Regions from separate parts of the Homo sapiens genome. Here region 2 is linked to region 1. Evidence: fine-mapped expression QTL. A gene starts in region 1. The other region holds a variant in brackets. All regions are shown on one strand. Distances are between the middles of the regions.

The links. PIP is the estimated chance that this variant, and not a neighbour inherited with it, causes the effect.
Region 2: its variant is fine-mapped to the expression of LNX1-AS1 in testis (GTEx, PIP above 0.99).

The regions. Positions count from the first base shown.
Region 1 is chr4:53,494,354-53,503,571 of GRCh38, forward strand. It overlaps LNX1-AS1 (LNX1 antisense RNA 1), which reads left to right and starts at 5,724. Exons shown (of 4, transcript NR_046622.1): 1 at 5,724-5,774; 2 at 6,064-6,149; 3 at 7,495-7,623. LNX1 (ligand of numb-protein X 1) reads right to left here. Exons shown (of 11, transcript NM_001126328.3): 5 at 4,288-4,490; 6 at 1,670-2,041.
Region 2 is chr4:53,542,628-53,551,845 of GRCh38, forward strand. The region is part of intron 2 of LNX1 (ligand of numb-protein X 1); the gene reads right to left. Among named protein-coding and RNA genes, the nearest start is that of LNX1, 44 kb to the right of the region's middle. The variant A/AG (reference allele first, on the strand shown) is at 5,291.

The sequences.
Region 1 (9,218 bases):
TTTTTAAATTACCCAGCCTTGGGTATGTCTTTATCAGCAGCAAGAGAATGGACTAACACATGGGCTATTAAGGAAATGTTCTTTTGTCTTGTGTCTCCTTAGGATGACCCTTGCTGACTTGTACACTGGAGAACTCCAGCTCATTCCTCAAGCCCCAAGTTCAAGATCTTCCTCCTCTGAGGAATTCACAGGCCTAGTCAAGCAAAAATCTCCCCTGCGCCTGCATCAGCATCATACTTAATTTTTTCCATTGCAGCAGTGTTAGACTGCATGGGCAGTCATTTAGATAAAGTCCAGCTTTCCTGCCACACTGGAGGATCCTTTGGAAGAATAATCTAAGTGGTCCTCCCTCCAATTTCTGCATCTAACCCAGGGGTACATAAGCAGCAGAACTTAACAGATATTTGCTGGATGAAGTGAATGAATGGGTTAGAACATAAGAGCCCAGAACAAAGTCTATTCTTCCAAGAATAAAGCTCACAGCTTATGAAACGTCGCTGAGACACAAAACTATCAGAACATTATACCGGGTGAAAAAAGCCAGTCCCCCAAGTCCGTATATGATTTCATTTATATAACATTCTTGAAATTCAAAATTATAGAAATAGAAAACAGATTAGTTATTTCCAAGGGTTAAGGAGGACGTGGGGCGGGGAGGGAAATGGATGTGGCAATAGAAGGCAACTTTTATAGGGATCTTTGTGGTGATGGAAATCTTCTGTTATGACTGTTAATGTCAATAGCATGCTTGTGATGCCATACTATGGTTTTGCAAGATGTTAACACTAGGAAAAACAGTAACGAGACATGGGATCTCTCTGTATTATTTCTTACAATTACATATTAATTGATAATTATCTCAAAATACGAAGGTGAGTTACAATTGCATACTAATTGATAATTATCTTAAAATAAAAAAGCTAAAGAAAAAAAAATTTCAACAGTGACCCTGACGAAGTCAACAAAATACATACAGGTGCTTGATGACATTATACTGGTCAGAAAAGTGGATTAGTTTGAACAGTCATGAACTCTACTTGCCTGAGTGATCAAGAATTTGCGTCCCTCTCTTCTTAGGGGGCTTCCTCTCAGGTTCATACTTGGGTTTCCAAGTGCTTTCGAAGTCACCTGGACTTAGCCATGGAGACTAAGACTTACTCTGTCCATAGGATCCCTGGAGAATGCATGGCATAGCTTTTTTTTTTTTTAAGATGGGTCTTGCTCTATTGCTCAGGCTAGAGTGCAGTGGCACGATCTCAGCTCACTGCAACCTCCGCCTCCCAGTTTCAAGTGATTCTCCTGCCTCAGCCTCTTGAGTAGCTAGGATTACAGGCACCTGCCACCACACCTGGCTAATTTTTTGTATTTTTAGTAGAGATGGGGTTTCACCCTGTTGGCCAGGCTGGCCTTGAACTCCTGACCTCATGTGATACACCTGCCTCGGCCTCCCAAAGTGCTGGGATTACAGGCATGGGCCACCACGCCCAGCCGAGTAATGTTCTTACCTGGGCAGAAGCTTTGAAAATGTTGGTCTTTCCATCCTGACTCCTTGAAAGGGAGGCACTGCATGACACATGTGGTAGTGACAGGGTGCCTGGTTCAGGGGGATGTGCATTCTTGCTCATGTCCGGGGTTTCTGACTGGGATCCTGGAATGACCTCTGACTCACCTGAATCAGATGAGCCGCACTTTCTGGGCTGCCATATCGAAGATCATGTCCATTGATGGCTAACACACGGTCATTCTCCTCAAGCTGACCATGTCGATATGCCACACCGCCATCCAGCACATTGAAGATGAAAACCCCAGGCTCATCCACCTTGCGCACCAGTTTTATTCCAAGCTGCTCCTCGGGGCTACTTTTGTTGAGAATCACATGAAAGCTGTCATCTCGGGGTCTGTAGGCATCCGGGGCCTGTCCATTGTTCCTGCTGCGGAACTTCTGTTCACGCATCACAGTCAGCCACAGCACCTGGCAGGGCTGCCGCAGGAGACGCACAGCGTAGTTGTGAGGGACATTGCTGATGTCCATCCCGTTGACCTGGGGGCAGGTGGAACAATCGTGCGGTCAGCTCCACCTGCCACAACCCTTCCTGAAAGATCCAGGCCCACAGAAAAGCCAGGATCCTGTCTTTAAAGACTGCTCTGCTCTCCCACCTCATCCTGTGTCCAATAACCGCACCTTCCAACAGCGTTTCTAACCCTGTTCTCTCCAAGCGTGGCCTGCAGCACCTCTCCAGGCCTCTGTGAGTAGACACCATCTTTCTCCACCTTGTTCTTACCCAAGCCCACATATTTATTCCCAGAATCCTAGCCTTCATTTCTGTTGTCATTATTTTTTAGCTGGCAGGAAGAGAGGGAAGGAAGATAAGGTAGGAAAAGGCAAAAGAAAAGCATTTTTCCCATTTGCCTCAGTCAAATGATTGCATTAAACAGCTCTTCAAGCCGAGTTGACATTTTCTTCCCAAAAATCTCCAATTGAATTTTTCTCCCTGGGTCAACTCATACCAGAACTTCCAGTCCTCACCACTGTGTGTGTATGTAGATGTGATAGTGTGTGAGTGAGGGTCTGAGTGTGTGAGCACGATGGAGTGTATGTGCGTGTGATACTGTGTGTGTGCGGATGGGAATGTGTCAGGTCTCAGGGTGGTCCCCTGCAAGGTTTTTTTGCCCATGTTCTCAGCAAAAGGAAGAAATCCTTGCACAGTTTCAGACAAACTGATATGAAAGGAAGTTTCCAGGCTCTTTTATTGAAAGGCTAGATCTCTTTATAAAGCTACTTAAACAAGCTTAAGCTCGGCCCTCTCATTTGTGCCTCACTAATGATGTGTAGGGCTGATACTGCATGGGGCTTTCTGGTTTTAATTTCTCTGGCTACACAGGCCCAGCCAGAGCCCCCTATGTTGGAAGAAAACAATTTCGCAGCAATTGCTGCACTCTGTGTTTGAGGAAAGAGGCCCCATGGAGGAGAAATAACTTTCTTGAATTTCTGTAGTTTGATAAGATTTCTTGTATTTGCAGCCAATTGTTAGAGAAGGCTTGGAATGGGCTTTACAAAGGCCTTTCTTGAGGATATAATCACCTGTTCTCTGGTGCAGCTCCAGAGGCTCCCTCATGCAAAGGCAAAGCTCACCACCTTTGTCCAAGCACAGGTGAGGAGAGCACCTGAGGTGGCAGGGCCGGGTTCCCCCATCACCTCTGGGCCCAGAGAAGGTCAGGGGAGTCAGGGTTGCCTGCTAAATAGTCCTGGCAGCCCTTTTGTTTGTAAGCTCCAGTTGAAGGCCACAAGAATCAAAATGTTTTGTTATGCAACCCTGCCAGGCAGCATAGTTTCCACTAGAACTGGGAGGCAGCAGTGCACAGTGTAGCTGATTGTACTGCGGCCTGCCCCGAGGGCCCTGTCTTATGCTCCACCTCGGAGGCCAGCAGGAATTTCAGTATTTCTGTGAAAACTGCTTTAGGTTATTTCTCCTCTTATTCCAATCAGTTTGCCAAAGAAACAGCTCATAATGTGACAGGAGCCGGTCCCTCAGCAACCTAGAAGGGATGGGATAGAACTGTTATCTGAGTGTCAGATAGAAAATATACGAGCAGGGAGGGGTTTCTTGGCACTTTTGGCAAACATTGGACTTCTGCCTGGTAAACAGATCTTTTTATCCTTTCTGTTCTGAAAATTCCTCCTTCTCCTTAACCAAGCCTCTGAGGACAGTAACACCCAAAGCATTCTATTCCAACACCTGTCTCCCCTGGTATGTCTCTGGGTTGGTGGAATTAGCATAGAGATTACTTTTATTTTCAGGGAGGGCCGTAAGACTATAGGAAATTGACTTTCAAAAAGTAGATGATTGTGATTAAATAAAATACAAAATGTTCTATTAATCTACTCTAAAAACAATTTAAGAAAATATATGTCCCAGTTTTATTTTATATTAATGCTCTTTAAAAAAAGAGATAAAAGGAGAAAGAGGAGGTGGAGAAAGGGAATGAAGAGGAAGATTGAAAAAGCTAGAAGGGAGAAGGCAGAAGAGTGGACAGACAAAATGATATAGAGACAGATAAATATTTATATACAGAGAGAAAGGGGGGAGAGAGTGAAAGAGCAAGACAGAGAGAAACAAAGATCTCAATTAAATGACAAATCTCAGAGAGTCATAAAATGATAGAAAGTCACTATCCACATTTATTTTACCATTTCCCTCATTCATCCATCCATCTATCCAATTGTTTGCTCAGAAGCATTTTTTTATATCAAGCCCCTTGCTGCAGCCCCACAGCCACAGTCTCTACCTTTAGAATGATGTCTCCTGGCAGTAGCCGGCCGTCTCTGGCGATCACCCCATCACGATAAATGTGTTGGATAATGATATGGACCAGTGGGGTTTCGCTACCTCCCACCAGCCTAATAGAGAGGCTTTCACTGGGATCTACTCGATTGATCTTGATGCTGGTAATTTCACCATCTGGAATCAGGTGGTACAACCTTGGAAAGACTGAAATGGACAAAGAGTGTTTATTTAAGACACCCACCCAATGGACCTTTCCAACTACTCTTCTTGCCAAACTTCAGTGTCAGCCAAACTAAACTATTCATTTTTCCTCATACATGTTTTCCATTTTCCTGCCTCTGTGTCAATGTAAGTTTCTCTGCTTGGAATGTTTTTCATCCTGAGCTTAAACCCAATTTTTCCTTCAAGGCCCTTCCAATTAAACTCTACCCTGATTCCTCCTTCCCTTGCTCTAAACAGCCCACTTCCTATAAAGCTTTCTAGCTATTTCTCATGGCACTCAACCCATTATTGTTATTTTTACCTTTTTGTTTTTGTTTCTGTTTTTTGAGACAGGGTCTTACTCTGTTGCCCAGGCTGGAATGCAGTGTCTCACTACAACCTCCGCCTCCTGAGCTCAAGTGATCTTCCCACCTCAGCCTCCCAAGTAGCTAAGACTACAGGCACATGCCACCATTCCTGGCAAATTTTTACATTTTTTGTGGAGACGGAGTTTTGTCATGTTGTCCAGGCTGGTCTTGAAATCCTGAGCCCAGGTGATCCACCCACCTCGGCCTCCCAAAGTGCTGGGATTACAGGTGTGAGTCACCTCTCCCAGCTTATACTCATTTCTTATATACCTCATATCATGCCCATAAAACCTGAGGGCATAAACTCTCGCTGTTCCATGGTTCTCTGCATATATCTCTGCATGCAGAGGCCTTCAGCTGAAGTTTACTGAATTAATAGAAGTGAATGAATCATTTTTAATGGAATGAATTGCAGTTTTATCGCTTGCTTATTGAGAGGTAAAAAACAGAACCAATTTGCCACTTTGCCCTCTCAGATAATTTTGAAAATTTCTTCCTTAAAGACTCTGCTTTTCAGGCTTGGGGGAACATCAGTTCTTTCTACCAGACATTGTTGTTAACAAATGGAAGAGGCCTGATTCATGATCAAGAAGAGGCCAAGGCCTAGTTGGTGGCCTTGAGCAGTTCATCCCTGGTTTGCCTGAAATCACTGAGTTCAGAGCAAGGAGATTCAAAGATCATCTAGGCTGGTGTTTTCAAACTGTATTTTTAAACTGATGAATCTGCTTTCCCCAAGAAATCTCTCCTAGCTCTCTTCTCATCTTTCATCCCATTGTGACCACACAGAAAACAGCTGCTCTAATTGTCCTGCTGCTTGACAGTGATAGTCAAACACTACAAGTGAGGAGGTTTAAGGCTGAGAGAAGGGGAGTGAAGTAACTGACTGGACATCCCAAAGTTAGGTGGTCCTGAGAGCCAGGTCAGAACCCAGAGTTCTTGTGACCGGTACTCTCTGTCAGGTATCCCTGGAGCCAGGGGTTCACAGCCAGGCCAGAGCCCATGAGGGACTTGCTCTATGGACCTATGAGCCAGCAGCACCGACTGGCATTGTTTTTTTTTTCACTTCAGTTTGAATAGAAGTGTTCAGAGGGGACACCAACAAGTGATGGGAACAAGCCACACCTAGCTTGGTGGAAAAAGGGGCTCCTCCAAGCAGCTAGAGGCTCAAGTTTGAATGTAAAGGGCTGAGATGCTTCTGTCTTCCGTAGGTGCTGACAGCTGCCTCACCTTAAGAGTCTCCTTTCGTTATGGCATCTGGAAAGATCTCACATGGCAGGCCTGCTTCTAGTTCCTTGTGAGCATTTTCAAAACCCGTGACCTTAGTCCATTTTCCCTAATGAATTAATAAGTACTCAACTCTCTAAGAACAATAAAGAATTAAAATTATTTCTAAGTATGTTAGGGCAAAGTAACTTAGTGGGCAGAGGAAACCCGAGATGTTGTAAATGTGGGTCCTTAATCTCTATACTGATTGAACTGAAGTGACTGCATAAGGCAGGGGTAAGCTGGCTTCAGCAGTCAGCTCCTGGTACTAACAGTACTCGGGTGATTGAGTTCAATTAATGTTTAAACTACTTTGGTTATATTAAGTAGGCTATACCACAGGCAATTGCTAGAACATGTCTGGTATAACAAGGGAATGGAAAAAAATTCATTCTGAGCAAAGAAAGATTTGGAAATAATCACAAAAGCCAATTTTCCCTCCCTCATTCCCCTTCCCTTGTTACCATCTTTTCCAACAGATTTACAAAAACCACACTGCCAAACCTAAACCGCTAGAGAATGTTTGATTTGATAGCTTGAAAGGACATACCATTCACACTTGTAAATGATGTTAGAGCAACACCAATGAGATCCTAGTGACCTTAAAGAGATAAAGGAATTTTTAAACTGCCAAACTTGTGTTGGTCTGGAAAGTAAAAAATTTGCTCAATATTATGTCCTTACTCAAGGACTAAAGGATATAATCTTATTAGCTGAGAGTTTGTTATATGCTGACATTGAGTTAAGGTATTTGAATGCATTTTTTTGTTTAGTCTTCACAATAACCCTATGAAATAGATGATAATAATCTTTTTTTTTTTTTTTTTTGGGGGTGGGGGGACAGGATCTCACTCTGTCACCCAGGCTGGAGTATAGTGGTACAATCTTGGCTCAAAGCAGCCTTGACCTCATGGGCTCAGGCAATCCTCCCATCTCAGACCAAGAAGCTGGGAGTACAGGTGTGTGCCACCATGTCCCACTAATTTCATTTTTTGTAGAGACAAAGTCTCACCATGTTCCCCAGGCTGGTCTCAAACTCCTGGGCTCAAGAGATCCTCTCACTTTGGCCTCCAAGTGCTAGGATTACCGGTGTAAGCCACCATGCCCAGACCCATCTCTGTCTTTTCAGATGAAGAAATGCTGAAGCTTAGAGCATTAAGCAACCCAGCCAGGGTCACACAGTTGATAAACAGTGGCGCCAGTCCCTTTACTGACATTAAAAGGATGGATAAACCATGCCAGGAAGCTAACTGTAGGTTGCTGAAGCAATGAGGCCCTCTGGCCATTTTGAAAGCATTGTTGCCTCACAAATGCTGTGACGACATTGATACCAGGCTAGCTGAGTCTTAACACCTCACTCCATTCTGGAATTACAGCTTCCTAGTGTGTCTGAGGAAATCCAATCTCTCCCACTCCAGCCCGCCTACTCATTGAACATGGCTGCTATCTCTGTCTTCTGGAAACACGGCTCCAATCCTGCAACAACTCTATACAAGAGCTCCCAGGTGTGTTCACTACCCCCAAATCAAGTACAGACTCCTAAATAATAATCAGGACACACTATGATCTGACCTTCACCTCATCTTCTGTATTGGTCTGGAAAGAAAATGATTTGTTCAATATTATGTCCTCACTCAAGGACTAAAGGATATAATAATAATTATTAACTGAGAGTTTACTATATGCTGGCATTGAGCTAAGCTACTTGAATGCATTTTCCAACACACAGTCAGCATCCCAACATCCATCCAAGTCACATGGATTACACTGTCCCCTATGGCTGCTATGGTCATTAATTTATACTTCATTCTTCATAGTACAGGCATACCTCTGAGATATTGTGGGTTTGGTTCCAGACTGCTATAAGAAAGTGAGTCTTTTGGTTTCTCTGTGGTTATAAGAGTTATGTTTACACTGTACTCTAGTCTATCAAGTGTACAATAGCATGTTTTTTAAAATGTACATATCTCAATTTAAAAATACTTTATTGCTAAAACATGCTGTTTAACGATCATCTGAGGCTTCAGCTTGTTGTAATCTTTTTGCTGGTAGAGAGTCTTGCCTTGATGTTGATGGCTGCTGACTGATCACAGTGGTGGTTGCTGAAGGTTGGGAGTGGCTTGGCAATTTCTTAAAATAAGACAACAATGAAGTTTGCCACATGAACTGACTCTCGTGAAAGATTTTTATGCAGATTCTCTGTAGAATGCAATGCTGTTTGATAGCATTTAAACTTCAGTAGAACTTCTTTCAAAATTAGAGTCAATCCTCTACTAACCTTGCTGTTTTATCAACTATGTTTATGTAATATTCTCAATCCTTTGTTGTCGTTTCAACAATGTTCACAGCATCTTCAGCAGAAGTAGTTTCCATCTCAAGAAACCACTTTATTTGCTCATCCGTAAGAAATGCCTCTACACTCATTCAAGTTTTATTATGAGATTGCAACAATTTGGTCATATCTTTTTTTTTTTTTTTAGATGGAATCTTGCTCTGTTGCCCAGGCTGGAGTGCAGTGGTGCGATCTCGGCTCACTGCAAGCTCCGCCTCCCAGGTTCACATCATTCTCCTGCCTCAGCCTCCCGGAATTTGGTCATATCTTTAAGCTCCACTTCTAATTCTAGTTCTCTTGCTATTTCCACCACATCTATAGTTACTTTTCTCCACTGAAGTCTTGAACCCCTCAAAGTCATCCTTGAGAATTAAAATCAACTTCCTCCAAACTCCTGTTAATGTTGATATTTTGACCTCCTCCCATGAATCACTAATGTTCTTAATGGCATGTAGAAGGGTGAATCCTTTCCAGAAGGTTTTCAATTTTCCTTGCCCAGATCCATCAGAGGAATCACTATGTATGGCAGCTATAGCCTTTCGAAATTTATTTCTTAAATAATGAGACTTAAAAGTAGAAATTACTCTTTGATCCACGGGCTGCAGAATGGATATTGTGTTATCAGGCATGAAAACATCATTACTCTTGCGTCTCCATCGAAGTACTTGGGTAACTAGGATGCATTATCAATGAGTAGCAATATTTTGAAAGGAACTTTTCTTTCTGAGTAATAGGCCTCAACAGTGGGCTTAAAATATTGAGTAAACT
Region 2 (9,218 bases), 48 kb after region 1:
GGGTACATCTGCAATTAGAGAAAATCCATGACAAAGACATGAACAGACTGGAGTAATTTAGAAGGCAACACAATTTCGGAATGAGAAAATTCAACATTAATTTACACTGAGTAAGAATAGGGGTCAAGGTGGAGAAGGCCATTGGCATTTGCAATTGCATTTAAATCTGTATTCGGAACACGTGACCCAGAGTGATGTTTAACCCGGTAAGAACCCCCCTCTCCCATCAGGAATAAATCAGGGGGAAAGCAAGTGGAAGTAGAGGGAACTGATGGTCATGAGCCCACCCAGGTGCCAGCTCCTCTAACGTGGTTCTCACTTGCTACTCAGGAATCCTGTGCTGTAGGAATCATTAGCACTTCATAGGTGTGGATTTGGAGTCAGATTGTCCTGTCTGCTACTTTTGTTTTTAAATAGAGATGAGGGTCTCACTATGTTGCTCAGGCTTGTCTCAAACTCCTGAGCTCAAACAATTCTCCTGCCTCAGCCTCCCGAAGTGTTATAATTACAGAAACGAGCCACCACGTCTGTCCTGTGTGCTACTGTTATCCGAAGGTCAGTTGCCCTCATGGCTGGCTCCCTTCCTCACTTCTTTCTGGGTTCTGCTGCTTTCTTGGCAAGGCCTGCTTATGTAGAACAGCATCTCCTTACCTGCTTTATTTATTTCATGCCACTTATTTCCATCTGATGTACTACATGTGTGCTTATTTACTGCCCTCTCACTGGAATATAAGTTTACTGCAGAATCCCCACAGCCTAGAACATGCCTGATATGTCATACACATTTGATAAGTATTTGTTATTAAATTATACTCTTCCCAGGAATGAATGTTTTCTTTATGCTACCTAAGTGTAAACTCTTAATTCATCTACCAGGAGGCTACCTAGCTTGGAAAAGAAGAAAAAAAAATCACACTATACAAAGAAAACGCTGAACAGAGAACTTCCAAGAAGTAGGAAATATCTTGCTCAATTTTTTTTTTCAGAACATTAATTTACTTTCACTGGACAAGGAAAATCTGTTTCTGTAAACCACTATTTTTATTAATAGAAATTCCCTGCCTTTGCTAAATGGTAAACAAATGTTAAGAATTTGAAGGAGGATCACATCACTGGGCTCCTTTGAGATCCATATGCCTCAATTCAACCCTGTCAACCATGCCAAGAAAGAAGAGAGCAGCTTATGTCCAAAGAAACTGGGAAAGAAAAAACAAATCTCCATGATGCTTTCTTTAGATGACACTAAGCAACTGAATGGGGGATTAAAAAACAAAAACAAACAAAAAAACAAAACAATAAAAACACCACCACAGTAAACAAACAGAAAAAACCAAACACACATTGACCTCATCTCTGGGTCTTTTGTAACTGAAGAAACAACACCTGAGTTACATGGAACAAACACTTTATCTTAGTCTTCTTCACCTTCACTGTCCTATTTTTGAACCCTAGACACCACACCTGCCTAGCTGTCATTGGGCTTTTAAATTCTCTGAAATAGACTATCTAGGTGTTTGAGAGCAGTACATAGAAATTAGTAAGCACCTGAGAGGTGCTGATTTCTCTCTCTCTCTCTCTTTTTTTTTTGAGACAGTCTCACTCTGTTGCCCAGGCTGGAGTGCAGTGGTGCCATCTCAGCTCACTGCAGCCTCTGCCTTCCAGGTCAGGCAATATTCGTGCCTCAGCCTCCTGAGTAGCTGGGACTACAGGCGCATGCCACCATGCCTGGCTAATTTTCTGCATTTTTAGTAAAGACAGGGTTTCACTGTGTTGGCCAGGCTAGTCTCAAACTACTGAACTCAGGTGATCCACCCCTTCGGCCTCCCAAAGTGCTGGGATTACAGATGTGAGCCACCATGTCCGGCCTGAGAGGTGCTGATTTCTTTTGTGATGTTAAAGGAATTAGTTTCCTGATGAGGTTGAGCTGCTATCTGAGTAGAACCCAAGGAGGCCAAAAGGTGGGTACTTCAGGGAAGACCCTGGAGTGGTAAGACACCAGCACTGCTGCCCAGTACCATGCGAGAATCTTTTCTAAAGAAAAAAGTGTGCAGGGGGCGAAGAAAGGAAGCTGGCTTGTACAGTAGCAGAGATGGACACGTAAGTAGCTGACACTGATCAATAATGCCCATGCGCCAGGCACTGTACTGGGGCTGCATGTGCATGATATAGTCTGTCAGTCCTCACAGTAGCTCCATGAGGTTGATGCAATGACATCATAACAGAGAAGTTAAGGCAATTGCCCAAAGACACACAGCCAGCAATTGGCAGGGCCAGGCTCTAACTCTGGAGTCCCGCTTGTGATCATAATGCACTCGACCAGCACGTCCCCAGTGACACCTCAGACCTATGTAGAGTTTGCATTGCACGAAGGTGGAGGGAGTGGTACCCAGATGCTTTTTTCTATTAAAAACTGCACCAGCATCTAAGAGGGAAGGATTATTCCAGATGAGTTTGCAATAAGATCCCTTTGATCCTTTGTAATCTTTCATCAATTAGCTCATGCAGCCAAAAATATTTCTGACTAATCACTTTAAAGAATGACTTTGAGAACTCCTGTAGTCTGCTCTCTTATGCCTACTTCAATGGGAAAATAGTTATACAAACTAGGAACTGCCATCTTCAGCATAATTTTAACTGGCCAGAGAAACTACCCAATCATTACCCAGAAAAGTTGAATCTATAAAGCAATTACTTTTCTGTTTCAGAATCCATCTCAGCCCCCCAACCTGGCCCTACTGAATTATAAAGGTGTGAAACAACCTAACACATCCAAGCAAATCCATCTCCATGACAACACAGTAGCGATGCAGTCCTGGAATCAGGATGCCTGCATTCCAGGCTGGCTGGATTACCTAGGGAAGTTTCCTCAGCCTCAATAAATCAGAGTTTTCTCATCAGTGAGATGGGGAGCCATTGCATTTGCTGCAAGGTTCCTAGGAGATCATTTATTTCTCATCACCATTAATTTCTCATCTCTGATGTTTATAGTGCACTTAAAATGTTCCAGGCATCTAATGCTTCCTGTGTATTGCATTTAATTCTTACCCCCATGAGGTAGGTGCCATCATTAAAACCTGATTTAAGGATGAGAGGCTTGAAGCTTAGCTGAAGTTACACAGCTAGTCAGTGATGAGCCAGGATTTGTACTCAGATTTGAATGACTTCAGAGGCCACATTTTTTTTTTTTTTTTTTTTTTTGAGACAGGGTCTTACTCTGTCGCCCAGGCTGGAGTACAATGGTGCTATCTCAGCTCACTACAACCTCTGCCTCGCAGGTTCAAGCAATTCTCCCGCCTCAACCTCCTGAGTAGCTGGTAGTACAGTGCACCTCACCATGCCCAGATAATTTTTGTATTTTTAGTAAAGACAGGGTTTCACCATGTTGGCCAGGCTGGTCTCAAACTCCTGACCTCAAGTGATCCACCCACCTCAGCCTCCCAAAGTACTGAGATTACAGGCATGAGCCACTGCACTGGGCCAGAGGCCACATTTTTAATCAATACAAGCTAAAGCTTGTTAATGTTTCATGACTGAACTCTGCCCTGCCTCTCTGCTGCCATCCTTTGTATATGAAACTCTTAGAATTAGATAAAAATCCCTGGAAGAGCATATTCAGACATAAAGCCTTATTGCTGTCAAATGGACCCAGGCTGCACGTGTTCAAAATTGGTCGAGGAAATCCCATGTTACCATTCTGAGCAGGCCCAGGTGGTCAGACTCCATCAGAGGATGCTGCATTCATGATGGGTGCTGTGCAGGGTCACTTGCCACACTGTGTCACCTCTATGTCATTGCTTTGCCTAGAGCTGGTAGTTTAAAATTTTAACCACTAGCTCCAATTTTATTGCTTCCTCAGGACACATATCATAAAACGATGAATGCTTTACTCTTATTTCCAAAAAAATGTCATAACTTGTTCAAGGTCACATAGCTTGTTACTGGCAGGGCTGAGTCATTTGGGTAAATTATTAGGCCTTAGTTTCTTCATCTATAAAATAGGGGGATTAGACTAAATCATCTCCAAGCTCTCCTTCGGCTCTCAAAAATTTATGGTTCTGGGCCACAGACACCACCAGCCAAGCAACAAGCTGGATTCAGTCTTCCTCTTCAAACTGGGGAAGGAGGAAAATAGGAAAGAGGAGCTGCAGTGTGAGGGCAGCAAGGAGCTAAATAGCTGAGGAATGAAGGCTGGGGAGGGAGTCGGGGGCAGAGTCAAGAGACTGGCAGATGTGGTAAAGACCGAGCCACTTGTGGAGGCAGAGCTGTGTGGAAGGCGAGGCCTCAGCCACTGACAAGTAGCTCAGGCCTCTCTCCATGGAATTTCCCCTAAGCTAGTTACCCCTTTCTCAGCTCAAGTCAGCCATTTCCCTGCCTCTTCAGTGAGAGGGAGGAAGAGACTGTATGGTTACAGCAACTCCAGTTTCTTGATCTCAGTCCACCTGTGCTTACTGTGGATAAAGTTAGTTGTTACCAAATTATATCAAATCGAAGACTATGTCTATTGTGAGGCGCACCATTATTTTTACAGATAACCAAGAAAGATAGACACTGCAAATTATCTTTGCATGGCGTTATCAATTCTAAGATGGAATCTATTTACAGGAGACATTAAGAAGTATGTCTTAGAATTGATGAAATATATTCTAACTCCCTCCATTACTCATGATAAAATCCACAAGTTAAGGGTTTCCTATGTACCAGGCACTATATTAAATGCTTTACATAATCTCACAACAGCCTGTGAGGTAAGTGTTATTCCCATTTATAGGTGAGAAAAGCTCAGAGAAGGTAAGTAACCTGCCCAAGTTTGCCCAGCTAGAGGAGACTATATAGGAACTGGGGTCAGTCTGACTGCAGAGCATGTGCCTTGAATCACTAGGTCATCTCACCTTCAGCAGAGAGCTACTGGATTACAGTCCTTGGGATGACAAGTGGACTTGTTTCTGGGGTCCCTGACCTCTCCCTCCCCTACTGTTCTGGATAGAGCTGCTAACAAAGGAAGAAAGTCGGGAAGGGCTCACAGGTACATTCTTGGCTCATGGGGCAACCAGGAAGACAGCTCCAGCTCTGGGTATGCAAGAGTTAAACATGGGAGAAGTGGGCTTAGAAGGGCACCAGAATTCCCAGAGATGGCTTTACAGGAAAATATGAGAGAATAAGAAGAAGGAGTCAGAAAGAAAGGAAGGTGAATTTGGTACCTCAGAGCTCCCATGGAGGGGGATGATGACTGTAAGGCTGATGAATATGGTTCGGGGGTCCTGGCATGCATGTGCCTTTCCAAGAACCTGAC[A/AG]GGGACCTACCAGTTGTGAATTCACAATTTTACCTTCCTTTTTAAAAAGAGGACTCAAATTCTGAACATTTCAAGTTTCATAAACCTGGATCCTCCAGTTCCAATCTTGGTGGTAATGAAAGCAGGTGTGGTTGGGGGTGGTGGGCCTCAGAGAAAGCTGGAAGGGCGTGGGGCCACATGAGCACACAGAAGGAGTGATGGTTGAAAAAAAAAAAAAGTCGGGGGAAATATGACTATGAGAAAAGGATGTCTGCTTCCTTGGCCTGCCAAGTTTTATTTGGCCTGCAGAAGTAGACCATTTCCTGCCCCATTCCTTCCAAGACCAACTCCACAGACTGGCAGTGAGCAATTTTCCTCCATTTACTTTGAAGAAGTTGTTTTACCAATGAGCCCTGAAAGTGGGCAGATTGTCATAGAACTCTTAGGTATATTTTTTCTATTCTTTAACAATGTTTTTGTGCCTGTTTTATCATGGATGTATTAATGTAGTAGTATATGTATATAATTTTATATAGATAACTATACATAAGACAAGCAATGGAGAAATTTATTGATTGATATAGGTCTGTGATCAAGAAGTTGCAAGATTATTGCCCTGTGGAGATATTTCTCCAGTCTCTTAAAGTTCTCCCATTAGAATACTTATACACTGTTGGCAGGAGTGTAAATTAAATCAACCATTCTGGAAAGCAGTATGGCAATTCCTCAAAGAGCTAAAAGAAGAACTACCATCCCACCCAGCAATCCCATTACTGGGTATAAACCCAGAGGAATATAATTCATTCTACTATAAAGACATATGCACGCAAATGTTCTTTGCAGCAGTATTCACAATAGCAAAGATATGGAATCAAACTAAATGCCCATCAATGACAGTCTGGGTAATGAAAATGTGGTATAGATATACCATGGAATACTATGCAGCCATAAAAAAGAACAAGATCATGTCTTTCACAGGAACATGGACGGAGCTGGAGGCTACTATCCTTAGCAAACTAATGCAGGAACAGAAAACCAAATGCTGCATATCTAAGTGGGAGCTGAATGGTAAGAACTTCTGAACACACAGAAGGAAATGACCGACACTGGGGTCTACTTGAAGGTGGAGGGTAGGAGGAGGGAGAGGAACAGAAAGGATAACTATTGGGTACTGGGTTTAATACCTATGTGATGAAATAATATGTGCAAACCCCCATGACATGTATTTACCTATGTAACAAACCTTGACATGTACCCCCCAAATCTAAAATAAAAGTAAAAAAAATAAGTTCTCCCCTTAAAGCTTCTGGGCAACAAGGTCATAAAAGACACTCATCTTGGGTAAAATTGTAGTTACATTCATAGACTTCAATGCTCAATGTTTTGGACCTTTGCTTTCTTACATTTCTTTCAACTTGGACAGTAAATTAAAACCATTGTTCTATTTTTCTCTTTTTCAGTTACTAGCCCAGTATTTGGAATTTGCCAAAGCTATATTCCTCAGAATTTACTTCAAGAGCTCCTTTGTATCGGCGGAGAATGAAGAACGGAGAAGAGGAGGAGGAGGTTGAAAGAAACTTAAGAGATGTGGCAACTAATTGCAACGTGTAGATTGTATTTAGCTCATGATTCACACAAACTAGATATTTGTTATTAAAGAATTATGGTTGTTTTTGGTGTGATATTAGTATTGTGCTCACATTTCTTAAGAATCTATCTTTAGAGATAGGTGCTGAAATTCTTGCAGATGAAATGACATTATCATCTGAGATGTGCTTCAAAAACAGTTAAAGGAGATATCGATAAGATGGCCTTGAATTCACAATTGCTGAAGATGGGTATAGGCCACATGGAGTTTTATTATAATCTTTTCTCTCCTTTTATATTGTTTGTAGTTTTCCATTATAAGTTAAAATGAAGAAAATAAGTCAACCAACATGAAGCGGTCAGTGAGATTCTTACGGACATCCCAGCTTTGCCTCTTATCCGCCTGACATAGTCATGGAACTAGAAAGACAAGCACAATTTGCCAAGCATCAGAGTGGCATCTTGAAACTGCTGGGTTTTGTTTAGGGTGGCCTCCCTAGGAGGAGAACACTTTGGACCAGGGAGTGAACAGCTTGGAACTGGAGTGGCTTTACTGCTGGCAAAAAAGAATTTGCTAATTCTCAAAGGGGGGAAAAAATAAAATCATGAAACAGGATCACAATGCTCTTTGGACATCAAAGAATCATTACAAAACAAGATTTTGGTGAGTTCAATGTAAATGAATGAGGGCCATGCGGCTTCAATTTCCTTCAAAATACACAAGTTTAAAAATTCAAGGAAAAATGCCCTGTTAAACATGTGCTGAACTGAAATGCTTCGAGAGTCATTGAGCCCAAATGGGCCCTGGCTTTGCCCCAAGACTGGATCTTGTTCCTGTTGGAATATGATTTCTCCAACATACCCCATTTCCTCTGTAAACTCTACCTCCTTCCTTCCAGGTCCTCGTCCAAATTCTACTTCAGATGCTCAAAACACAGGACAAGACAAATCCAGGGATCAGCAACACTTTTTTTTCCCCTTTTCAATTTTGATAAGAAAGAAACAAATTCTTGGAGACTCAATTTGGAAAACATTTGCTGGCAAATCCATAAAGCTCACCCTGTTGGTTTGAACTTTGAAAGTGTTGGGAATGGCTAACACAGTGAAAATGAAGTGGGGAGGAAATGGATGCTAAGGCAATCCACTGTATTCCACTCACTCCCGACTCATTCACCCCAGAAAAAATCCAACCATAATCATCTGGACCTTCCTGTGTGGATCTCCATTAGTATAAAGCTTTTTTAAAAAGGCACTTCCCCAGGTCCTGGAGTTCATGGCCCAATACCTGGCCCAGGTCTGACTGAAGTTAGTAGGCAGGAAAAGGAGCTACTAAGGGTGGTCTTGCCACACAGCCTTCACCTAGAGAAGGGGATACTGAAAAGCCAGACCAGGGCGTAATGGATAGATGGAAATAGATACAGAAAATGGAGGCAAGCAACCTCCCCACTTGAAAGCCTGGAACGCCCAGCTGGGTTTGATTTAAAGCTCTCTTTGGGCCTGTGAGCCCCAAAATGAATGTTCTTGTTGCATGAAGTCTGTGCAGTTTGTCAGAGGTGTATGTCGCAGGTTAGGTTAGAGTCAGTTAACCTAGGAGGCGGTTGGTGGTTGGAATCCTTGGTTCTAAGAGCTTGGTGTGTTCTGTGGCTCTGACTCCTGGGGCCTACCACATTTTGCAGGAAGGGCATACATAAGGCTGCCCATAACTCTTACCGCTTTTGGCAGTTTCTCCCCGAGGCCTCATCCTTCTGTTACAGTAGGTAGTTAGACAGACATGAGGCAGGGAAGGCCACCCTCCCCACAATGAGGAATGTCAGGCAACCATCAGGTGATGGTCAGGCAGTTGTTAATTGTCTCTCTAAAATAATCATTGGTTGAAGCCAGGGCCAGGCAGTTTCCCAATAAATAGAAAACACCTGAAACTGGTGATCAGCTTCCTAGTAAGATCTCAGGAGTTGGGTGAGTGGACTCAAGCATGCGCACTAAGAGGCAAAATGGCAGAGTTTAACTGGTATATGAATCCTCAACTGATAAGGAGAAAAAGCCCTCAAGTGAGCACGTACACAACTTCAGTAAACACACTGCGCACGCTCACCCCCCAAGTGCCTGAATGCCACTGTGGATGCGGACAGCCCACTCCAAGGGAAGAATCAGGGGAGAAGAGATGCAACCCCCCTGGAAGCATGCCAACATATGAAACACCAAGTCAAAGGTCAAACCACCCGGCTGATCTCAAGTCACCCGCTTGGCCCTCTTCTAAGTGTACTTCCTTTTGTTCCTGCTCTAAAGCTTTTTAATACACTTTTCACTCCTGCTCAAAAACTTGCCTTGGCCTCTCACCCTGCCTTATGACCCTTGGTTAAAA